3 linked regions of the Homo sapiens genome follow. The protein of the gene in region 3 interacts with the protein of the main gene of each other region in a pairwise test. Each region holds a gene or a part of one and is shown on either strand. Other genes may lie near its edges.

The links. The genes of interacting proteins can lie anywhere in the genome.
Region 1: the proteins of COMT (region 3) and HIBADH interact in binary tests that used the Homo sapiens proteins (3 or more experiments, as listed by UniProt).
Region 2: the proteins of COMT (region 3) and UTP6 interact in binary tests that used the Homo sapiens proteins (3 or more experiments, as listed by UniProt).

The regions. Positions count from the first base shown.
Region 1 is NC_000007.14:27,652,874-27,659,897, reverse strand, and holds part of HIBADH (3-hydroxyisobutyrate dehydrogenase, mitochondrial isoform 1 precursor), read left to right. Parts: intron 1-3,131; exon of another isoform or gene 3,132-3,266; intron 3,267-7,024.
Region 2 is NC_000017.11:31,898,699-31,906,124, forward strand, and holds the start of UTP6 (U3 small nucleolar RNA-associated protein 6 homolog), read right to left. Parts: upstream 3,011-7,426; 5' UTR 2,930-3,010; coding exon 2,838-2,929; intron 1,033-2,837; coding exon 948-1,032; intron 1-947. UniProt on the Homo sapiens protein: Part of the small subunit (SSU) processome, first precursor of the small eukaryotic ribosomal subunit.
Region 3 is NC_000022.11:19,958,753-19,965,776, forward strand, and holds part of COMT (catechol O-methyltransferase), read left to right. Parts: intron 1-2,446; 5' UTR 2,447-2,537; intron 2,538-3,480; exon of another isoform or gene 3,481-3,774; coding exon 3,775-4,063; intron 4,064-4,813; coding exon 4,814-5,007; exon of another isoform or gene 5,008-5,082; intron 5,083-5,415; coding exon 5,416-5,547; intron 5,548-6,381; exon of another isoform or gene 6,382-7,024. UniProt on the Homo sapiens protein: Catalyzes the O-methylation, and thereby the inactivation, of catecholamine neurotransmitters and catechol hormones. Also shortens the biological half-lives of certain neuroactive drugs, like L-DOPA, alpha-methyl DOPA and isoproterenol.

The DNA of each region.
Region 1 (7,024 bases), on a different chromosome or scaffold from region 3:
ATGTTTTTTGAGACAAGGCTAGTTGCCTACTACGCTGGTCTAGAACTACTGGCGTGAAGCCATCCTCTTGCCTTGACCTCCCAAAGTGTTGGGCTTACAGGCATTAGCCACTGTGCCCAGCCTGCCACATCTTAATTTTTAAATGTTTGTTTGTTTGTTTGTTTGTTTATTTGAGATGGGGTCTCTCTCTCTCTCTTGTCCAGGCTGGAGTGCAGTGGTGCAATCATGGCTCATTGCAGCCTCAACCTCGTGGGCTCAAGCAATCCCCCTGCCTCAGCCTCCCAAGTAGCTGGGACCACAGGTGCACACCACCACACCTGGCTTTATTTATTTATTTATTTTTTTTGTAGAGATGGGGTCTCACCATGTTGCCCAGCCTGGTCTTGAACTCTGGGGGTCAACTGATCCTCCTGCCTCAGCCTCCCAAAGTACTGGGATTACAGTCATGAGCCACTGTGCCTAAGCCTAATTTTAAAATACTTAAAGCATTGAAAAGGAAATAGAAGAATGAGAAATGTTAAAGTGTACATGTATTACTATTTCATCACCTGTTTGATAAAATTGTGTATGTTATTTTAGAAGGTAATTAAGTTTAGTTTCAGACTTATTTGTACAGAGAAGAAAATCTACAGCTATAGGCCCTCTACAAAATGTCACGTTGTGACTCTACAGCTTGTACATGGAAAAATAAATCACATCAGATCATCTTGAGGTGACCACCTGACCAAAGGTAGAATGGAAAAATTAGCATCATGTATAGAAACAGGAATACAATTTTTAATATTATTGGTCCTTTTTGTATATGTGAAATTTACTTTCAAAGTAGCATAACTCATTGGATAAATCAAATATATAATGGCAGTTTTTCCCTTTACATTAGCTTCTAGGGCTGCACATGAAGTTCTGAAAAGCTGCTCATGGTCCGGGGCCTAAAAGTTGACCCTAAACTTGTGAAATTACATAAGGAGCGTATTTATTACTAAAATAAGTTGACTGAAACCGTAAAGGCCTTTATAGAGAAAGTCGTCACCCTTAGTTTAGTAACTGTTAATAGTAAAGCAGATAGAGTGCTTATGACGTAGTATTATGTGATAAAATAGATATAAAAAATGTATTATGTGATAAAATAGACATACATTGTATAGAAAATATAACCTTATGATATAATGAAAAATGCAGTCAAAAGACTGAAAGTCCATGCAAAATGTTTTTTTTATTTTTGTGTAATGAGATTGCTTCCCCTTACAACTGTATACTTTTTCATTCTAGTTTTCTACAATGAAAATGCATTACTTTGAATAGAAAAGAAGCCTCAGAAATGTAAAATAATTAACTTGTTACCAATTTTTGCATTTTGACACTTAGTGAAACCTGCTTTTTGATAGCACTTAAGGTTATCAAGATACGGATAACTCCCCTTGTTACATTGGAGAAAGAGGTCATAATCGGTAAATTTGCATCTATAAATTTAGAAACAAACTTTGCCAAGTTTTCTGGCTAGTTTCTTTTCATTCGTCCTCAGTAATAGACACTAATGCTAGTTTCTTAACCAGTGAACCAGTATCACCTTTGTATTTGGTTGATTGATTTTCTCCCAGCTTGGTTTTATTTATGTTTTAACTCTACTTTTTCCACGCACTACTGTCAGAAGTTATTTAAAGAGAGATGCATTATTTAGGTTTGAGAGTTTTTAGGGCAATAATCATTCCATTATACTCATGGATTTCTGCCCCTTTGGGTGCAAATTATTTTATATTTGCCAAGCGCTTATTCAGGTGTTTCACCTTAACTAAAAGCTTTCTTTCCCCAGATACAGGGCTTCTCCTACAGTCATCTATACTTTTTTCTATCTCTTTGGCTCTTGTAACCCACTAGGCAAAAAGGGGCAGTTGGCATAGGACTTGACCTGTACTGCTACAACTTGACCATTTTTGGTAAGAGTAACTAATACTTATTATCAATCGTGTGCCAGGCACTGTTTAACGCTTTATATGCATCATCTCAAGTAATCTTTACAATAATCTTCTGAAGTAGGTACTTTTATTGATCAAATGTTGTCTAGAGAAGTTAAGTAACTTGTAACTTCAATGGTATACATCTAAGAAGTGAACTTATCAGGATAGGAACCTAGGCCTTCCCAACTCAGAGAAAATTTTAAACATTATCACCATCAATAGATAACTTATTCTCTTTTGACATCAGGTCATCTAATTATACTGGCCTTTCTTTAACTTTGCCACAGAGAAAGATGAAATAAAGAGAGCTGAGTCCTTTGAAAACTTTATCTTCATTCACATTCATGTTGGCCCATCCAACATGGCCTCATTGTTCTTAACTTCTTCAGCTTCAGTAACATCAGCACTCTACTTCAGTTTTTCTAGGATCTTAGTAGTAGGAGTGATTCTCTTGCTGAGATTTCACCAGCAGAACTAGTCTCTGGTTGATTTAACCTCCTCTGTGATTCTTGTTCTAACAAACATACTGTTACATAATGCTCATCACCTGGTCCTTTGACTCCCTCCCTTTTCCTCCAAGTACATAGACATGCTTTCTTGTTTCCTCATTTCATAAGGTCTCTCTCTAGGTTTGTCTGTACCCATTCTCAAACTTATTTATAATTAGGAATTTCACTGATGCCTAATACTGTTTTTTTCAGCCTCTTGTTGTATTTCTGGATAAATCCATTGTTGTGGTCTGTTTGTGCCTTTCCCCAGCTGTCACTTAGCTTGGTGATATGGAGAGTCACAGAAGTTTGCTGATTAGATACAATGCTTTCATTAATCTCTTGTTTATTCCCCATTACATTTTCAGATTTTCCACAGCATTTCCAGAACTTTAACTTAGGGCTGGCAGCTCCTGAACCAGTCATTTGGCAGAAGGATGCCATTACCATGTATTAGTTTAGACAGTTTGAAACTTGACCTCGGATCTACGGGAAAGAATATTGGAGAGTCAACCTGCAATGTGTAATGGTTGCTGTGACACTGTTTACCTTTACACAGTCCACTTTTATCAGCAGCATTACTTTGTAATTGCTTTAGAACTGGCTTTTATTCCCATATGCCCATTTGATGAAACTTACCTAGTTTATTATTCATTCACATAGCATATATTAAATTTCACTGTGCCACTTCATTTATTTCATTTTATTATAAAAGTAGTTACAAAAGTTACATGCTCATGGTAAAAAATGGGAAAGGTTATAAAATTAAAAGTAAAATTTTCTTCAACTCCGACCCAGTAGTCCAACTCTCCAGGTGTAAGTACTGTTTCGTGTGTATCCATACAGAAAATCAGAAAAATTAATGCATATGTATCATTTTTTCTTCTCTTATACTGTATCCTATAGATAATGCTCAGCATTTTTTTTCCACTTAATAACTTATCCTGGAGATTTTTTCCTATAATTTTAGATAAATGTCACCTTTTTTTAAACATTTGCACATTTCATTGTGTTGATTTACTGTGAATTATCAAGTGTCCTACAATGTACATTTAGTTATGAATTAAGTGCCCTATTAATATATAATTAGTTATGAATGAAGTGCCTTATTAATACATAGTTATTTGCAGTTTTTTGGCTGTTACAAGTAGTGCTGTAATAAACTATATCTTTGTGTTGTTCAGAATTTAATACATAGTAGGGATTGCTATGGCCCATAGTTGGGCACCTTGTTTGTAAATAAAATTGTATTGGAACACAGCCATACCCATTTGTTTGTATGTTGTCTATGGCTGCTTTCAAACTAGAGTAGATGAATGAAATGGTTGTAACACCATTTCACAATGGCTCACAAAGCTGAAAATAATTTACTGCCTGACTCTTTAAGACAAAGTTGGCTGGCCCCTCATGTGTAGTATATATTCTTAGAAATGGAATTGCTAGGTCAAAGAGTATGCATGTTTTAAATTTAAATTCTAAATAAAAGTTCAAATTTTTTTTTGCCAAATTACCATCCAAAAGGTCGACCTAATATACAATTTGACAGTATATGAGAGCATATGTTTTCATCAGTTATTTCTTACCAAGAGTAGTTTTTATCAAAGAAAAAACTTATCCAACAGGTGAAAAATGGTATCACATCATTTTGTTTTGCATTTCTCTAATTATGACAAGTTGGGTATATTTTTAGAGGTTTTCTGGGGGGTAATTTACATATTTTCTGTTGTCATTTTGTGATTTTTGCCTACTTTAAAAAATTATTCATGTTTTTCTTCCAGATTGTAAAGTTATTTTACATATAAAACAAAGTAGCTCTATTTTTGTCATGTGTTAGAGTGTTTTTCTTATTTGTATTTTATCTGTTTGTGATATTTTTTCCATATAGATATGCTAATCTTTTTCCCCTTGTTTTATTATGAAAAATATGAAGCAGAAAGTATTGAAAGAATAATATAACTGACATCCATATACTCTTTCCTTAGAAACAAGTTGTTAATATTTTGCCACATTGACTTTTTTTCTTCCACATATATACCTATCCCGCTTGAATCATTTGAAAGTAAATTGCTGACATGACACTTTAACCCTAATGCTTCAGCATGAATCTAAGAATGAGGATATTCTCCTATGTAACCAAACTACCATTATCCTACCTAAGCCAATTAGCAGTGATTCCATGGTATCATCTAATGTACAATTTGCATTCAAAATTTCATTATTTTCTTAAAGGCTAGCTTTTTTTTAAAGTCAGGATCCATTCAGACTTCACACTTTACATTTGATCTATCACTTTAGTACTAATTGAGAACTGTCTTCTCTTGTTTGTTTCTATATATATGATACTGACTTTTTAAAAACAGCTTTATTAGCAATATAGTGATATATGATAAGTTGTACATAAAGTATACAGTTTGATTAGTTTTGATGTATATAAGCCGGTGAAGCTATCATCACAGTCAAGAGAGTGTGGCTGGGTGCGGTGGCTCACGCCTGCGCTCCTAGAACTTTAGGAGGCTGAGGCCCACTGATTGCTTGAGCTCAGGAGTTCGAGACTGGTCTGGCCAACATGATGAAACCTCATCTCTACAAAAAAATGCAAAAATTAGCCAGGACTGGTGGCATGTGCCTGTAGTCCCAGCTACTTGGGAAGCTGAAGTGGGATCATCTGAGCTTGGGAAGTTGAGGCTGTAGCGAGCTGTGATCATGCCACTGCACTCTAGCCTGGGCGACAGAGTGAGACCCTGTCCAAAAAAAAAACACAAAAAAATGGTAAACATATCCATCATCATACCCCTGAGATTGATTCATACCTCTGGAATATACAAATATTTGTATATTTTTCTTGGTTATAGATTTCTAGCTTGATAGTTGTTTTTTCCTTCTGGTATTTAAAAAATGTTGCACCACTGTCTTCTCACTTGCATTGTTTCTGATGAGAAATCTGCCTTTATCCTTATCTTTTTCCCTTTCTACATAGTGTGTCCTTTTTCCTGTGGCTGCTCTTGTGCGTTTGATTGTGATGCATCTTAATATGGTTTTCTTCATGTTTCTTGTATTGGGGTTCATAGAGTTCCTTGGATGCATGGGGTTTGTAGTTTTCATCAACTTTGGAACATTTTTGGCCATTTGTTCTTCACACATATTTTCTGCCCCACTTCTCTCTTCTCATTTGAGGACTCTAGTTACATATGTGTTTGGGTGGTTGAAGCTGTCTCACAGCTTATTGATGCTCTCTTTATTTTTTAAATTATTTTTTTCTTTGTGTTTTGAATAGTTTCTATTGCTGTATCTTCAAGGTTATTAATCTTTCCTTTGGTATCTACTCTTCAGTTAATCTTCTGGTATAATTTTCATCTCACATATTTTAGTAGTAGATTTCATCTCAAGAAATTTAATTTGTATTGATAAAAATATCTTTCATAATTCTACCTTTGGAATATATAGACTACAGTTATAATTTTTAACGTCCTTGTTTTCTAATTCTAACATCTGTTTCAGCTTAGGGTTGGTTTTGACTTTTTGACTTTTGAGTATACACGTTCCCTTGGGCTTCAGAGAGGTTCAACTTTGGCCTTCAGCCTCTTCATACTCATCTGGTGATTTTATTAACTTTTACAAATTTCACCTCTTAACTTTTGAGACAAATGGCTACCAGGTATATCTCTTTTTTCTCATCCTATCACTGAAACCTTGGTCATGGTATTTCTTTTTTTTTTTTGAGACAGAGTCTCACATTGTCGCCCAGGCTGGAGTGCAGTGGTGCGATCTCAGCTCACTGCAAGCTCCGCCTCCCAGGTTCATGCCATTCTCCTGCCTCAGCCTCCCGAGTAGCTGGGACTACAGGCGCCTGCCACTACACCCGGCTAATTTTTTTTGTATTTTTAGTAGAGACGGGGTTTCACCATGTTAGCCACGATGGTCTCGATCTCCTGACCTCGTGATCCGCCCGTCTCGGCCTCCCAAAGTGCTGGCATTACAGGCGTGAGCCACCACGCCCGGCCGGTCATGGTATTTCTAATAGTCTGTTGGACATCTTTTCAGCTCATTGACAGTTCATAGTTACCCTGGGTAAAACTGAGCCAGCTCTCCTTGATTTCTTCACTTAGGTATTGATAACACTATTCTCTTACTGTCATTTTGGACCTCACCCTTATTTTAGCCTATAATCCAATCCATTGTTTTATCCTTTTACTTCTGTCTTTGAAATAGTTTTTATACCTGTCTTTTCCTGTGGCTACCACACTTTATTAATTTTGACTTTGTTATGGACTGAAATTTTATGTCCCCACAAAATTTATATGTTGAATTCCTTTTTTTTTCTTTTTTGAGACGGAGTCTCGCTCTGTCACCCAGGCTGGAGTGCAGTGGTGCGATCTTGGCTCGCTGCATCCTCCACCCCCTATGTTCAAGCAATCCTCCTGCCTCACCCTCCTGAGTAACTGGGATTACAAGCACATGCCACCATGCCTGGATAATTTTTGTATTTTTAGTAAAGACTGGGTTTCACCATGTTGGCCAGGTTGGTCTCAAACTCCTGACCTCAGGTGATCCACCCACTTTGGCCTCCCAAAGTGCTGGGAT
Region 2 (7,426 bases), on a different chromosome or scaffold from region 3:
ATTTCAATTAATCAACCAATCAATCAATTTGTGAAGGGATTAAAAAGTAAGGCTAGGACCGAGCATGATGCCTCATGCCTGTAATCATAGCACTCGCTTTGGGAGGCCGATGCTGGTGGATTGCTTGAGGCCAGGAGTTCGAGACCAGCCTAGCCAACATGGCAAAACCCAGTCTCTACTAAAAGTAGCTGGGTGCGGTGCCATACGCCTGTAATCCCAGTTACTGAGGAGGATGAGACTTGAGAATCACTAGAACCCGGAAGGCAGTGGTTGCAGTGAGCCAAGATCGCGCCACTGCACTCCAGCCTGGGTGACAGAGCAAGACTCTTGTCTCAAAAACAAAAATAAAAAAAGTAAGGCTGGGCCCGGTGGCTCACAAACACTTGTAATCCCAGCATTTTGGGCGTGGGCAACATGCCGAAACCCTGTCTCTACAAAAAACACAAAAGCTAGCCAGCCATACTGGCACACACCTGTAGTCCCAGCTACTCCAGAGGCTGAGGTGGGAGGATGGCTTCAGCTCAGGAGGTGGAAGCTACACTGAGCCATGATGGCACCACTGCACTTCAGCCTGGGTGAAAGGCGAGCCCCTGCCTCAAAAAAAAGTAATGAAATTATTAATTATTGGCCGGGCACTGTGGTTCACACCTGTAAGCCCAGCACTTTGAGAGGCCAAGGTGGGTGGATCCCTTGAGATCAGCCTGGGCAATGTGGCAAAACCCAGTCTCTACCAAAAAATTAGCCAGGCATGGTGGCATGCATCTATGGTCCCAGCTACCCAGGAGGCTGAGGTAGGAGAATCGCTTGAGCCTGGAGGGCAGAGGTTGCAGTGAGCAGAGATCACACCATTCACACCACTGCACTCCAACCTGGGTGACAGAGTGAGATGCCATCTCACCAAAAAACAAAAAAGAAAAAAAGAAAGAAATTATTAATTACACACTTACTTGAACATAATTGATAAAGTCTTCCTTGAAAAGGGTTCTTCTCTGGATTTTGTACTCTAGATCGGAAGCCTTCTTAATGATAGCCCTGAGGAGAAAGCCATTTAAACTTCACTTGAAAACTGCAAAAATTAAACGTTTAAGTTTATTTTGAATATATTTAAAACATGTTTTTCAAAATACGAAATTCCTAGAGTTATCTTTCATAAGAAAGTATTATCGGCCGGACACAGTGGCTCATGCCTGGAATCCCAGCACTTTGGGAGGCTGAGGCGGGTAGATCAAGAGGTCAAGAGACTGAGACCACCCTGGTCAACATGGTAAAACTGCATCTCTACTAAAAATACAAAAATTAGCTGGGCGTGGTGGTGCGTGCCTGTAGTCCCAGCTACTCGGGAGACTGAGGCAGGAAAATTGCTTGAACCTGGAAGGCGGAGGTTGCAGTAAGCCGAGATCGCGCCACTGCCCTCTGGCCTGGCGACAGAGCAAGACTCCATCTCAAAAAAAAAAAGTATTCTCTTACACAATTACTTTTGTGTTCTTAAGGGTTCATTTTTAAACTTTCAGGAAAATCATCTTAATCAACTCCCAAAACCAATGACATTCCCACCAGCAAAGCAAATACAATTAAGAACTTTATACCATTTATGTATGGTGTTTTTTTTGTTTGTTTTTTTCTCGCTCTGTCGCCCAGGCTGGAGTGCAGTGGCATGATCTTGGCTCACTACAACCTCGGCCTCCCGAGTTCAAGCGATTCTCCTGCCTCAGACTCCCGAGTAGCTGGGACTACAGGCGCTCACCACCACGCTCAGCTAATTTTTGTATTTTTAGTAGAGACGGGGTTTCACCATATTGGCCAGGCTGGTCTCGAACTCCTGACCTCGTGATCCACCCACCTCGGCCTCCCAAAGTGCTGGGATTACAGGCGTGAGCCACAGCGCCTGGCTGGTATTAATAAAGACTTCTTTTACTCCAAGTTCAGGTCACTTAAATTTTAATAATAAATTTCTTTCCGAAATTCCTCTTATTTCTGAGTTCTCAACATGTAAATTTTTTTAAAAATCTAAATTGCGTCTGCCTTAAAAGACTTATTACTACGAAGGACTTACGGGAGAAGATTCAGAGTCCTTAGCTAAGGAATGAACATATGACAAATATATATTAGGAGAATTTAATGCAAGATGTGCAAGACAGGTGTCTTTAGTAATGGTAACATTAACCTTAACTGAGCACTTTCTAAGCGTCCACACTGCTTTGTTTTGTGTTTCATTAACGAATGCTTACTTTGAAGCTCTGAGTCACATTACTACATTCAGACGTTGCAAAACAAAGCAACAGTCACAGAAACCATTAAAAACTATTAAACATAATTTTAACACGCTACTGAATGTCTACCATGTGCCAGGCGCTGTAGTTAGGCTCTGGAGTAGCATATGAAACTGATTTCAATGGTCCCCACCTTCAAGTCTAGTTAGGAATTTATCCACTCCCCCTGGGCTCTCACAGCACTCTGTTCCCATCCCTACAGCAGTACAAGGTACTACAATCAACTTACAGTACACTGTTATCAAAATATTTAATTTGTCTGTCTCCCCCACCACACTCTGCCCAATTAGCTCCTAATGAGCAGGAATCCTGGGTTTATCACCTTTACAGCCCTAAGACCCGGCTCCATGAAGGGCTGTCAAAACGTCTGATGGGTAAGTAGACGGACGGATTACCTTGCAACGAATGAAAAATTAATTCTGGACATCACCGAAAACGAGAAATGGGCTTCCACCACGTTAGGAAAAGTAAACACAGGTCGAGCGTCCCCACATCTAGCCCCTGCCACACACTCCCAACCTCCCCTCAGGCCGCCTCAGCTCTTCCCTCTCCCCAACCCTCTCTCACTTAATCTCCGCATGACTGAACAGTCCAATGCGCTCCAGCTGTTCCAATTCCGGGAGCCGATCTTCTATGCGTTCCTGAATTATCTCTGCCATGAGGTCCGAGGTCTACAACCCCGCGGGTAGCTTCTCAACAGCGAACACGAGCAGGAAGCTCCCGGTTTCAGGTTCGGAGACCCAGCCCTACCACCGACGCGTCCGGACGTAACGTGCTCCCTAGGTCCCGCCTTTTCCGCTTCCGCCACCTCCTACTTAGGGGAAGGCCCTTCGGCTTCTACAGCCACCGTCCCCTCCCTGTGGCCGATTGTGGGATTGCAGCGAGAACCCGCCCTGGTCTTGGGCAGGACGACTCTAGCGGACAGGAGTTGAGGGGCGGGGCTAGACGGGAGGGAGGGGTTAAGTGCGCGCGCCGCTAGACTTGGACAGCCATCAGGAAAAGCGCCTCCAGGTGTAGAGAGGTGGGCTGCTCAAGCCTGAAAGGGACACGAGATGCATTTTCTTCAGAATATTGTCTCCCATCCCACGTCCTGACTTCCCAACACCAAGAACAACAACAAAAAAAAAAGCAAAGGAGGAGGATATTGTACAATTAAACATTTTTGAAAGCCGGTCGCGGTGGCTCATGCCTGTAATCCCAGCAGTTTAGGAGGCCGAGGCGGGCAGATCACCTGAAGTCAGGAGTTCGAGACCATCCTGGCTAACATGATGAAACCCCGTTTCTACTAAAAATGCAAAAAAATTAACTGGGCGTGCTGGCACGCGCCTGTAATCCCAGCTACTCGGGAGGCTGAGGCAGGAGAATCGCTTGAACCTGGGAGGCCGAGATCGCGCCATTGCACTCCAGCTTGGGCAACAAGAGTGAAACTCCGTCTCTAAATAAATAAATAAATAAAATAGAATTGTTTATTATTTAAATCAATATCCTGTCTTTGTAAGCAATAGCTTTCAAAATATATGTCCCTAGGTGAATATCAGACACTATAAATTCTTTTTAGAAAAGGAGATTTTTGTATTGAAAAGTTTGAGAATTACCAAAATAAATCACTAAGGTATAGACACCCTCCTTAAACCATTGCCCAAGCAACTTAGCATTTCTAAGAGAAACACCAGGCAACACAGCTTGGAGGCAATATTGCTGGTATAGTTAGTAAACCTCAAATGATAACTACATGGTTCAGTTCTTTTTTAGTTCTGGATATAAAAAAGCCAAAGCAGCAGTTCTTGCTAAATCTGCTTATTTCAACATTCACATTAGCACCTGGATCCTGTGTGTGATTTATGAAAGGAGAATGGGCTCAGCAAAACCATGTTCCACCTCTGTGCCTTGCATTTCTTTCTTTCCTTTCACATTTTACCCACTCATCTCAGAACTGAGACGAGGGTTGGCTTGTGCTACACCATTTCTTGAATCCTTCAGCTGTAAGACATGTCAGAAGTGGAAGGAAATCACGAATGTAAGACAAAGATAGAATTTATTTGTAAAAGTAAAATCTCTGGGGCTGTGTTAACAGTAAGAGTGGAGATGACACTAGATAGTAAACTCCATATGGGCAGGGAATTTTTTCCTTTTTGACTGGCTAGATACTCTACAGCTTATAGCAGTGCCTACCATATAATAAGTACTCAGTTAATAAATGCATGACACTAAGAAAAGGTACTTGCTAAATTTCTTTAGGTACAAGGAAGTCAGCAAGTTATGACAGACTGTAATCATTTCAAAGTAAATTTGATAGAGACCTTCATAAATTAACCATGATTTTTATTTTATTTTATTTTATTTATTTATTTAGAGACAGAGTCTCGCTCTGTCACCAGGCTGGAGTGCAGTGGCGCGATCTCGGCTCACCACAACCTCGACTCCCCTGGTTCAAAGGATTCTCCTGCCTCAGCCGCCCGAGTAGCTGGGACTACAGGCACGTGCCACCACACCCAATTAATTTTTGTGTTTTTCGTACATACAGGTTTTCATCATGTTGGCCAGGATGGTCTCAATCTCCTGACCTCATGATCCACCCGCCTCAGCATCCCAAAGTGCTGGGACTCCAGGCGTGAGCCAACGCGCCCGCCCAATTTTTAAATCAAACTAACTATAAATACGCTCCTCCTTTATATTGTTTTGTTTTGTTTTGTTGTTCTTTTTAAGACCGAGCCTCGCTGGCCAGGCACTGTGGCTCACACCTGTCATCACAGCACTTTGGGAGGCCGAGGCCACGGATAACCTGAGGTCAGGAATTCAAGACCAGCGTGGCCAACATGGAGAAACCCCGTCTCCACTAAAAATACAAAAAAATTAGCTGGGCCTGGTGGCCTCTCTCTGTTGCCTAATGGGGAGTGCAGTGGTGCGCTCTCGGCTCACTGCAACCTCCACCTCCTGGGTTCAAGCGATCCCCCGAGTAGCTGGGATGACAGGCGTGAGCCACCATGCCCGGCCTAATTACGTTTTTGTTTTGTTTTGAGACAGGGTCTTACTATATTACCCAGGCTGGAGTGCAGTGGTGTGACCACAGCTCACTGCAGCCTCAACCTCCTGAGCTCCAGCAATGCTCCCACCCCCGCCTCCCAAGTAGCTGGGACTACATGTGTGCCCCACCGCACCTGGCTAATTTTCCTTTTTTCTTTTTTGTAGAGACAGGGGTCTCACTATGTTGCCGAGGATGGTGTTTTTGTTTTTGTAAATAGAGACAGGGTCTCACTGTATTGTCACCATGGTCTTGAACTCCTGGCCTCAAGTGATCATCTTGTTTCCCCTTCTCAAAATTCTGGGATTACAGGCATAAGCCAGCACGCCCAGCGATCCTCCCTTATTTTGAAATTTAGCTTTTTTTTTTTTGAGATGGAGTTTTGCTCTTGTTGCCCAGGCTGGAGTGTAGTGGCGTGATCTTGGCTCACTGCAACCTCAGCCTCCCAGATTCTAGTGATTCTCCTGCCTCAGCCTCCCGAGTAGCTGGGATTACAGGCGCCCACCACCACGACCAGCTAATTATTGTCTTTTTAGTAGAGACGGAGTTTCACTATGTTGGCTAAGCTGGTCTCGAACTCCTAACCTCAGGTGATCCGCCCACCTCGGCCTCCCAAAGTGCTGGGATTACAGGCATGAGCCACCACGCCTGGCCAAAATTTAGCGTTTATGTATATATTCTTGTTGTTGTTGTTGTTGTTGTTGTTGAGACGGAGTGTCAGTTTGTTGCCCAGGCTGGAGGGCAGTGGCATGATCTCGGCTCACTGCAACCCCCGCCTTCCCGTTTAAACGATTCTCCTGCCTCAGCCACCTGAGTAGCTGGGACTACAGGCGCACGCCACCACGCCCAGCTAATTTTTGTATTTTTGGTAGAGACGGGGTTTCACCATGTTGGCCAGGCTGGTCTGGAACTCCTGACCTTGTGATCGATCCACCCGCCTCCACCTCCCAAAGTGCTGGGATGTGAGCCACCCCGCCCTGCCTAGCTTTTATATTTACCTTCAAGAATTATTATGATGGGCCAGGCGCAGTGGCTCACATCTGTAATCCCAGCACTTTGGGAGGCCGAGGTGGGTGGATCACAAGGTCAGGAGTTCGAGACCAGCCTGGCCAACATGGTGAAACCTCCGTCTCTACCAAAAATACAAAAATTAGCCGGGCATGGTGGTGCGTGCCTGTAGTCCCAGCTACTCGGGAGGCTGAGGCAGGAGAATCGCTTGAACCCGGGAGATGGAGGTTGCAGTGAGCCAAGATCACGCCACTGCACTCCAGCCTGGGTGACAGACCGACACTCTGTCCCAAAAAAGAAAGAATTATTATGATGTTTTGGAGGCCAAGGCAGGTGGATCACCTGAGGTCAGGAGTTCACAACCAGCATGGCCAACATGGTGAAATACCCCCCCACTAAAAATACAAAAATTAGCTAGACATGGTGGCGGGAATCCCAGCTACTCTGGAGGCTGAGGCAGGAAAATTGCTAGAACCTGGGTGGCGGAAGTTGTAGTGAGCCATGATCACACCACTACACTCCAGCCTGGGAGACAGAGCGAGACTCCGTCTCAAAAAAAAAAAAAAATACTTGGGAGGCTAAAGCACAAGAATCGCTTGAACCCGGGAGGCAGAGACTGCAGTGAGTCGAGATCGTGCCACTACACTCCAGCCTGGGCAACAGAATGAGAATCTGTCTCAAAAAAAAAAAGAATTATTATGACAGAAATGACAAAGCCTTCTTTTCACTTCTGCATCTCATAATAATAGCTGTCATTGGCCCGGCGCAGTGGCTCACGCCTGTAATCCCAGCACTTTGGGAGGCCAAGGTTGGCAGATCACAATGTCAGAAGTTCAAGACCAGCATGGCCAGCATGGTGAAACCCCATGACTCTGTCTCAAAAAAAAAAAAAAAAGCTGTCATTATGTAGGGCTTATTGTGTGCCCAGCTACTATGTGCACTGTTCTAAGTCCTTTATGTTTTTTTGTTTTTTTTTTTGTGAGCCGAAGTTTCGCTCTTGTTGCCCAGGCTGGAGCACAATGGTATGATCTCAGCTCACTGCAACCTCGGCCTCCCAGGTTCAAGTGATTCTCCTGCCTCAGCCTCCTGAGTAGCTGAGACTACAGGCGCCCGCCACCACGCCTGG
Region 3 (7,024 bases):
CGGTGGTGCACATCTGTCGTCCCAGCTACTTGGGGGGGCTGAGGCAGGAGGATCCCTTGAGCCCAGGAGGTCGAGACTGCAGTGAGCTGCGACCGCGCCACTGCACTCCAGGCTGAGCGACAGAGTGAGACCCTGTTTCAAAAAAACAAAAAAAAAGCACATTTCAAACATACACAAAAGCAGAGAGAATTCCCCTCGGTCCTCCGGCCTGCACCCCACCGCCCCCCACCACAGGGGCATTCAAAACTGTCTTTTTGCCTCTCTGTAAGGTAAGGGGGGACTCTTGACGCTCCCCAGACCACACAGCCAAAGTAGGGCGATCGGATCATAGGGGGTCCCGAGTCGGACACTGAGCTGGCGTGCCCACTCTCGAGTCCTGGGACCCCAAACTAAAGGAGCTGTTCCTTTTCCCCATGGAGGGCTGACGGGGCAAAATCCCAGGGCTGGGAACATCCGAGCAGCTTTGAGTAGCACAGGTGGGTTTCTACGTGGCTTTCTTTAAAGGGAGGCCTGATTCTCGGCTTTTCAGGACCCGCCCTCCATTTTCTCACTTGCCTGCTCTTTCGTCCTGCGAAACTGGGCAGTGGCCGGTGACAGCGCAGGGTCAGCCCTCGGATGGCCAGGTGGGCGTGATCCCACCCTCCTCCGTGGCTGGGTGGGCGTGGTCCCAAAGTCAATTGGATGTGGTCCCGCGTCCCTCCCGGCCCAGTGGGCGGGGCCTCCCCTTCTGGGGCCTCCCATCCCACACCAGCGAGCAGAGAGGAGGGTGGGCGGGGAGGCCCTACGGGGCTGGGGCGGGGCGGAGCGGAGGTGGTTAGCTGTCGGGAGGTGGGGTGGGCAGGGGCCAGGGCTCTGTTGGTGGCCCGGGGCAGCCAGTCCCTCTGCTCAGGGCTTCAGTTCACACTCACAAGGGAATCCCAGCGCTCTTCTCCTCTGGCGGTTGCTGGAGGGCCTTGTGAGGTGGCCGTGGGCACTGTAGCCCCCAGGCACTGCATTGTGGCCTGGGCGTGTTGGCCTTTGAGCCTTTGGCCTTGAGCACTTCCCCATCCCCCATGGCTCTTGGCCGTTGGGGCCCAGTTGGCCGCAGAGCCTTTGGCCTTGAGCACTTCCCCAGCCCCCATGGCTCTTGGCCATTGGACCCCAGTTGGCCACAGAGCCGCGGGCAGGTGGGACAGGCGGGCACTGGGTGCCTCCTTGCACCAGCCAGGCCCAGCCTGCAGAGTGGAGTGGGCCGGTCCCTCCTGCCAGGCAAAGGAAGGGGGCTTCGGGCCCCTCCCTGCTGTGGCCTCCTCCCCTCTGCTGCCTCCCACTAGGCCCTGGGAGACACTGCCTGCAGATTTATGAACAGACAGACCTAGAGATTAGAGATTCAAAAGCCAAATTCTTACACAATTCAAGTATTAACGCAGATTTGGATTTATAATTTGGGACTCCAAGGTCTACCAAGTAATTTGCTGTTTCAGAATAGCCCTTTTAATTTGGGGTATATATTTCTAACACTGTTTTTTAAATATGGAGAGTAAACAAAATGGCCCATTATCTGACCACACAAATACTAGTAGTCATTATAGATAAACCATAGCAGATAAATAATAGTAAACAAAGCAACAGGCTGTGTCATAGGAAATCCCCACCATGAAGAAAGGAGCAAGGTGGAAAGTTCTGGCTGCTTCAGGTCTGCATGGTCCCTCTCCACCATGGTTCCCCCTGTCATCTTCCTGCCAGAATAAGGACACTGTCCTTAGGGAAGCACCATCTCTTGTTTTTTCCCCACGAGCCCTGTGGGTCATGGCACGTCCTGCCCCGCTGGGAAACACAGTGGGCCACGGGTTTCCCTGCAGGCCTGGGACCCTTCCCAAGGGTAGCAGCAGAAGGCAGCACGATTCCCACTCCTGCAGCTGTGGACAGGGGCACCCCCACTGTCACTGAGCCCTGCACCGGGTTCCATCACCTGCTCGGGGCTCTGGCCTTTGGCCTTTTCCTGTGAGCTGCATGTTGGCCACTGTGACCTATCTGTCTCATCATCTTTTTCTTACTGGTTTGTGTATGTTCTTGGTAAACTAGCCCTTGGTCTTACACATCATTTCCAAGGTACTAAGGACTCTTCAGGGGAAATACAACTTGAGCAGAGTGGTTCCCTCCTCTTGTGGTTCACAAGGTGCAGGTGCACACACACATAGCCCACAGGGCAGTGTGGACAGGGACCAGGAGACTGCCCCTGGGGTCCCTGGCTGGGGGACACTAGTAGGGATGTCCCTTGGCCTCTCTGAGGCCTTCTGCTGTCTCTTCTGAGGCCGGAAAGGCGAAGCACTGCCCTCGCCCTGCTAGGGAAGGCTCAGGCCAGGCTGGCCCTATCCGGGGAAGGGGCTCAGGTATCTGGACCTTGGTCATCGCCAGGTTAGGGTTTATGTTGATGATTATCCAAAGGCAAAATTGATTTCCACAGAAATAACATCTGCTTTGCTGCCGAGCTCAGAGGAGACCCCAGACCCCTCCCGCAGCCAGAGGGCTGGAGCCTGCTCAGAGGTGCTTTGAAGGTGAGTTGGCCAACGGAAGCCGGGGCAGTGCCAGGGTGGGTACAGATTCCGGCCCGGTGCATGGGCACAGGTCTGCTGAGCACATGTCCACTCTGCCTGTGTAAATAGGCCACATGGCCTGAAATCCCCTAGAAGCCTGGTGTCCGCATGACCTCCCCCTAGGGCGGAGCCTCTGCTTCCCTGTTCTCTTCTGCTCTGTCCTCTGGTGCCCTGAGGCTGGCCTCCAGGGGTGTCCCCTCTGTGGCCCTAGGCCTGCCTCCTTGCCTGGGTGTGCCTTTCTAAAATGGAGCGTCCAGCAGAGAGTGGGATCTCCTATGCCACTGGGAGCCCAGGGCCCCATCCCAGAAAGACCTCTGAGTGAGCACAGGGGCCCTAGAAGAAGTTTCCTTGTGTCCTTCCCGTTTTAGGGTCTGTGACCTGAACCCCTGGGCTTCTGCCTCAGGCCTCCTGTGCTCTGCTCTCTGCCTGCTGGGTCCCCTCACCAGGCTTCTGTCTGGTTCCCAGGCTACCTGCCTGGAGGGTCACACCAGGAGGATTTCAAACAGGTTTCAAGTGGGGTCACTTGCCATCACTGTGCCCCACGAGGTACACTGTTGTGGGCGGCAGGGCTGGCCTTTCTCATCTGGGACATGCCACGTTGCTGTTCCCAAGGGGAGTGGTGAGTGGGTCTGTCCTGGTGTGCCTGGCCTGGGGACTGCCAGTGTCCTTACTTGGACACTCAATGAAAAGGCCACATGAATCCCTGGGGCGTCCAGAGCATGGGTGACCAGCACGGGCTCACCACATGAGGCCAAGGGGCTGCACCATACAGCCTCTCCTTTGGCCACCCGTGACTACCCCCAACTCCGGGCCATGGGGCTTCCCTACCCCTGGGTGTCCTCTAAGCCAGCTGGGAGACAACAGCCTGAGTCCGTGTCTGCTTCTGTATTTTGTGTGGTTTTAGAGGATCCCTGGGCTGCCTGGGGAAGCACCCAGGGCCAGGGAGTGTGACCCTGCAGGCTCCACACAGGACTGCCAGAGGCACACACCTGCTCTGTCTACCCGAGGGCACCAGAGGGCACGAGAAGGCTGGCTCCCTGGCGCTGACACGTCAGGCAACTGAGGCACAAGGCTGGCATTTCTGAACCTTGCCCCTCTGCAAACACAAGGGGGCGATGGTGGCACTCCAAGCAAAGGGGCGTGTGGGTGCTGCAGGAGGAGCACAGAGCACTGGCGCCCCTCCCCTCCCGCCCTGCAGATGCCGGAGGCCCCGCCTCTGCTGTTGGCAGCTGTGTTGCTGGGCCTGGTGCTGCTGGTGGTGCTGCTGCTGCTTCTGAGGCACTGGGGCTGGGGCCTGTGCCTTATCGGCTGGAACGAGTTCATCCTGCAGCCCATCCACAACCTGCTCATGGGTGACACCAAGGAGCAGCGCATCCTGAACCACGTGCTGCAGCATGCGGAGCCCGGGAACGCACAGAGCGTGCTGGAGGCCATTGACACCTACTGCGAGCAGAAGGAGTGGGCCATGAACGTGGGCGACAAGAAAGGTGGGGTCCGGGCCAGCAGGTGCTCAGCTCTGGGACAGGGACCCAGGACCAGGCATCAAAGCCCTTACAGGAGAAGCTGTTATCACCCCATTTCCAGGGGGCTGGGAACCCTGGGATATGCCCAGATAGGGCTGGGGGGCTCCTCTGGAGTCCCAGGGTGCCAGGGTCCCTGATGACCCCTGCAGGCCCTGCTGCCTGCTGCCCCAGGACAACAGGCCCCCACACTCACAGGGTCTGACGGTGGTGCAGTTCCCCTTGAACTCTGTTCTGGCCACCATGGGACCTGCCTGGGGACCAGTCAGACAGGTTCTCCTGGGCCCGCCTCCCGCTTGAACTTCAGCCTGGGGCACAGGATGTGTTACCGGGCTCACGGAGTGACTCAGGGAACTAGTGCCGCCCCAGGGCCCCAAGGTGGGCGGTTCGGTGATTCAGAGAGGGCAGCTCTGTGTTAGGACACACTGGGGCCAGCCAGGAAGGGTGGAAAAGATAGGGACCAGCGTGAGCATAGAGGCTAAGGGACCATGGGAGCTCCAAGCGCGCTCACAGTGGGGACCAGGTCCTGGGGGCTGGGGACACCAGGGAGGTGAAATACCCCTCCAGCGGGTAGGGAGGGTGGGCAGAGGAGGGCCAGCGGCCAGGCATTTGGGAGGGGCTCCTGCTCTTTGGGAGAGGTGGGGGGCCGTGCCTGGGGATCCAAGTTCCCCTCTCTCCACCTGTGCTCACCTCTCCTCCGTCCCCAACCCTGCACAGGCAAGATCGTGGACGCCGTGATTCAGGAGCACCAGCCCTCCGTGCTGCTGGAGCTGGGGGCCTACTGTGGCTACTCAGCTGTGCGCATGGCCCGCCTGCTGTCACCAGGGGCGAGGCTCATCACCATCGAGATCAACCCCGACTGTGCCGCCATCACCCAGCGGATGGTGGATTTCGCTGGCGTGAAGGACAAGGTGTGCATGCCTGACCCGTTGTCAGACCTGGAAAAAGGGCCGGCTGTGGGCAGGGAGGGCATGCGCACTTTGTCCTCCCCACCAGGTGTTCACACCACGTTCACTGAAAACCCACTATCACCAGGCCCCTCAGTGCTTCCCAGCCTGGGGCTGAGGAAAGACCCCCCCAGCAGCTCAGTGAGGGTCTCACAGCTCTGGGTAAACTGCCAAGGTGGCACCAGGAGGGGCAGGGACAGAGTGGGGCCTTGTCATCCCAGAACCCTAAAGAAAACTGATGAATGCTTGTATGGGTGTGTAAAGATGGCCTCCTGTCTGTGTGGGCGTGGGCACTGACAGGCGCTGTTGTATAGGTGTGTAGGGATGGCCTCCTGTCTGTGAGGACGTGGGCACTGACAGGCGCTGTTCCAGGTCACCCTTGTGGTTGGAGCGTCCCAGGACATCATCCCCCAGCTGAAGAAGAAGTATGATGTGGACACACTGGACATGGTCTTCCTCGACCACTGGAAGGACCGGTACCTGCCGGACACGCTTCTCTTGGAGGTGAGCCCCAACCAGGATGGCATCCGTGCCAGCTGCTGCCCAGAGCCCATTCAGTCAGCCTCAGCCTCTCCAAAGAGCCAGGCATTCCAGTAGAGCCCTGTGTGGACACAGCTCGCTCTGGAGGCACCACCTGAGGTCTGGGAGTGTGGGGGACTGAGGAGGCCCTGTGGTGGGTGGAGATGGGTGGGGAGCTGGGCCAGGGGCCTGGCTGGGTGGCCTGTTGGGAACTGGGGAGCCAGCTGCCTGTGCAGGTGCAAAATGGGTGGCAGAAGTGGGGTGCACACCCCAGACCAGACACCAGGGCAGAAACGGCACAGGACCAAGGAGATGGGGTGGGGAAGGGCCGCTCTGGGCCCAGCCTGCTCTCCCCCAAGCAAGCCACTGCTCGTGCAAAGAAAGCATGTGTCTCCTGCAGATCTTCCTCCTGAGGCCCCATCTTGTGCATTCCCCCAACCCAGCCCCACTGGCGAGGACCCTGAGTGCCCCGAGTGAGGCTAGACAGCGGGTGGGGCTGTCCTCGCTTCCCTGGGGGGCGTGGGGCACTGGTGGCCCTTCACAGACTGATGCTTAAGGAGCCTCACATCAGTGACACACTGCCCCATCCCTCCCTGGTGGTCAGCGACACTGAGTGGCTCTGTGATCCTCCACTGGGCTTGGGACACCCACCCTCACGGCCTCCCCACCTGGTGCTCGCTCACCTGCAGCTCTCCCAGAAACTGGACACTGCTGTTAGCAGCCGGACTAGGAGCACGAGGGGCACAGCCCCCATGCCTGGCTAGGTAGGGCCGCTGGACCCTGGACACGGATTGGAAGGAACCAGCACTAGCAGAAGCCTGAGGTGTGAAAGGGCAGAGAATGTTCCAGGAACAATGGGAGTCAGGGCACACAGGACTTTGGGCAGGTGAGGATGAGGTTAGACCTGTCTTCTGGAGCTGGGCTCAGGGGCTCATGCCTGTAACCCTTGCACTTTGGGAGGCTACGGCAGGAGGAGCGCTTGAGGCCAGGAGAGTTCGAGACCAGCCTGGGCAACATGGCAAAAGAAAAAATATATATATATATTTTAGATGGAGTCTTGCTCTGTCACCAGGCTGGAGTGCAGTGGCACGATCACGGCTCACTGCAACCTCCACCTCTTGGGTTCAAGCGATTACCCTGCCTTAGCCTCCTGAGTAGCTGGGACTACAGGCGCGCGCTGCCACACCCGGCTAGTTTTTTGTAGTTTAGTAGAGATGGGGTTTCACCACATTGGCCAGGATGGTCTCAATATCCTGACTTCGTGATCCGCCCGCCTCGGCCTCCCAAAGTGCTGGGATTACAGGCGTGAGCCACTGCGTCCGGCCGTATTCCAGCTTTCAAAACAACAAAAAACAACAAAAACTTTTCTGGAAAGATCCCTGTCAGCCTTGTGGAGTGTGGAGAGGGCTGTGGGGAGGGCATTTCAGATGCCCTGAACTCACGAGGAGGCACTGAACCCTGG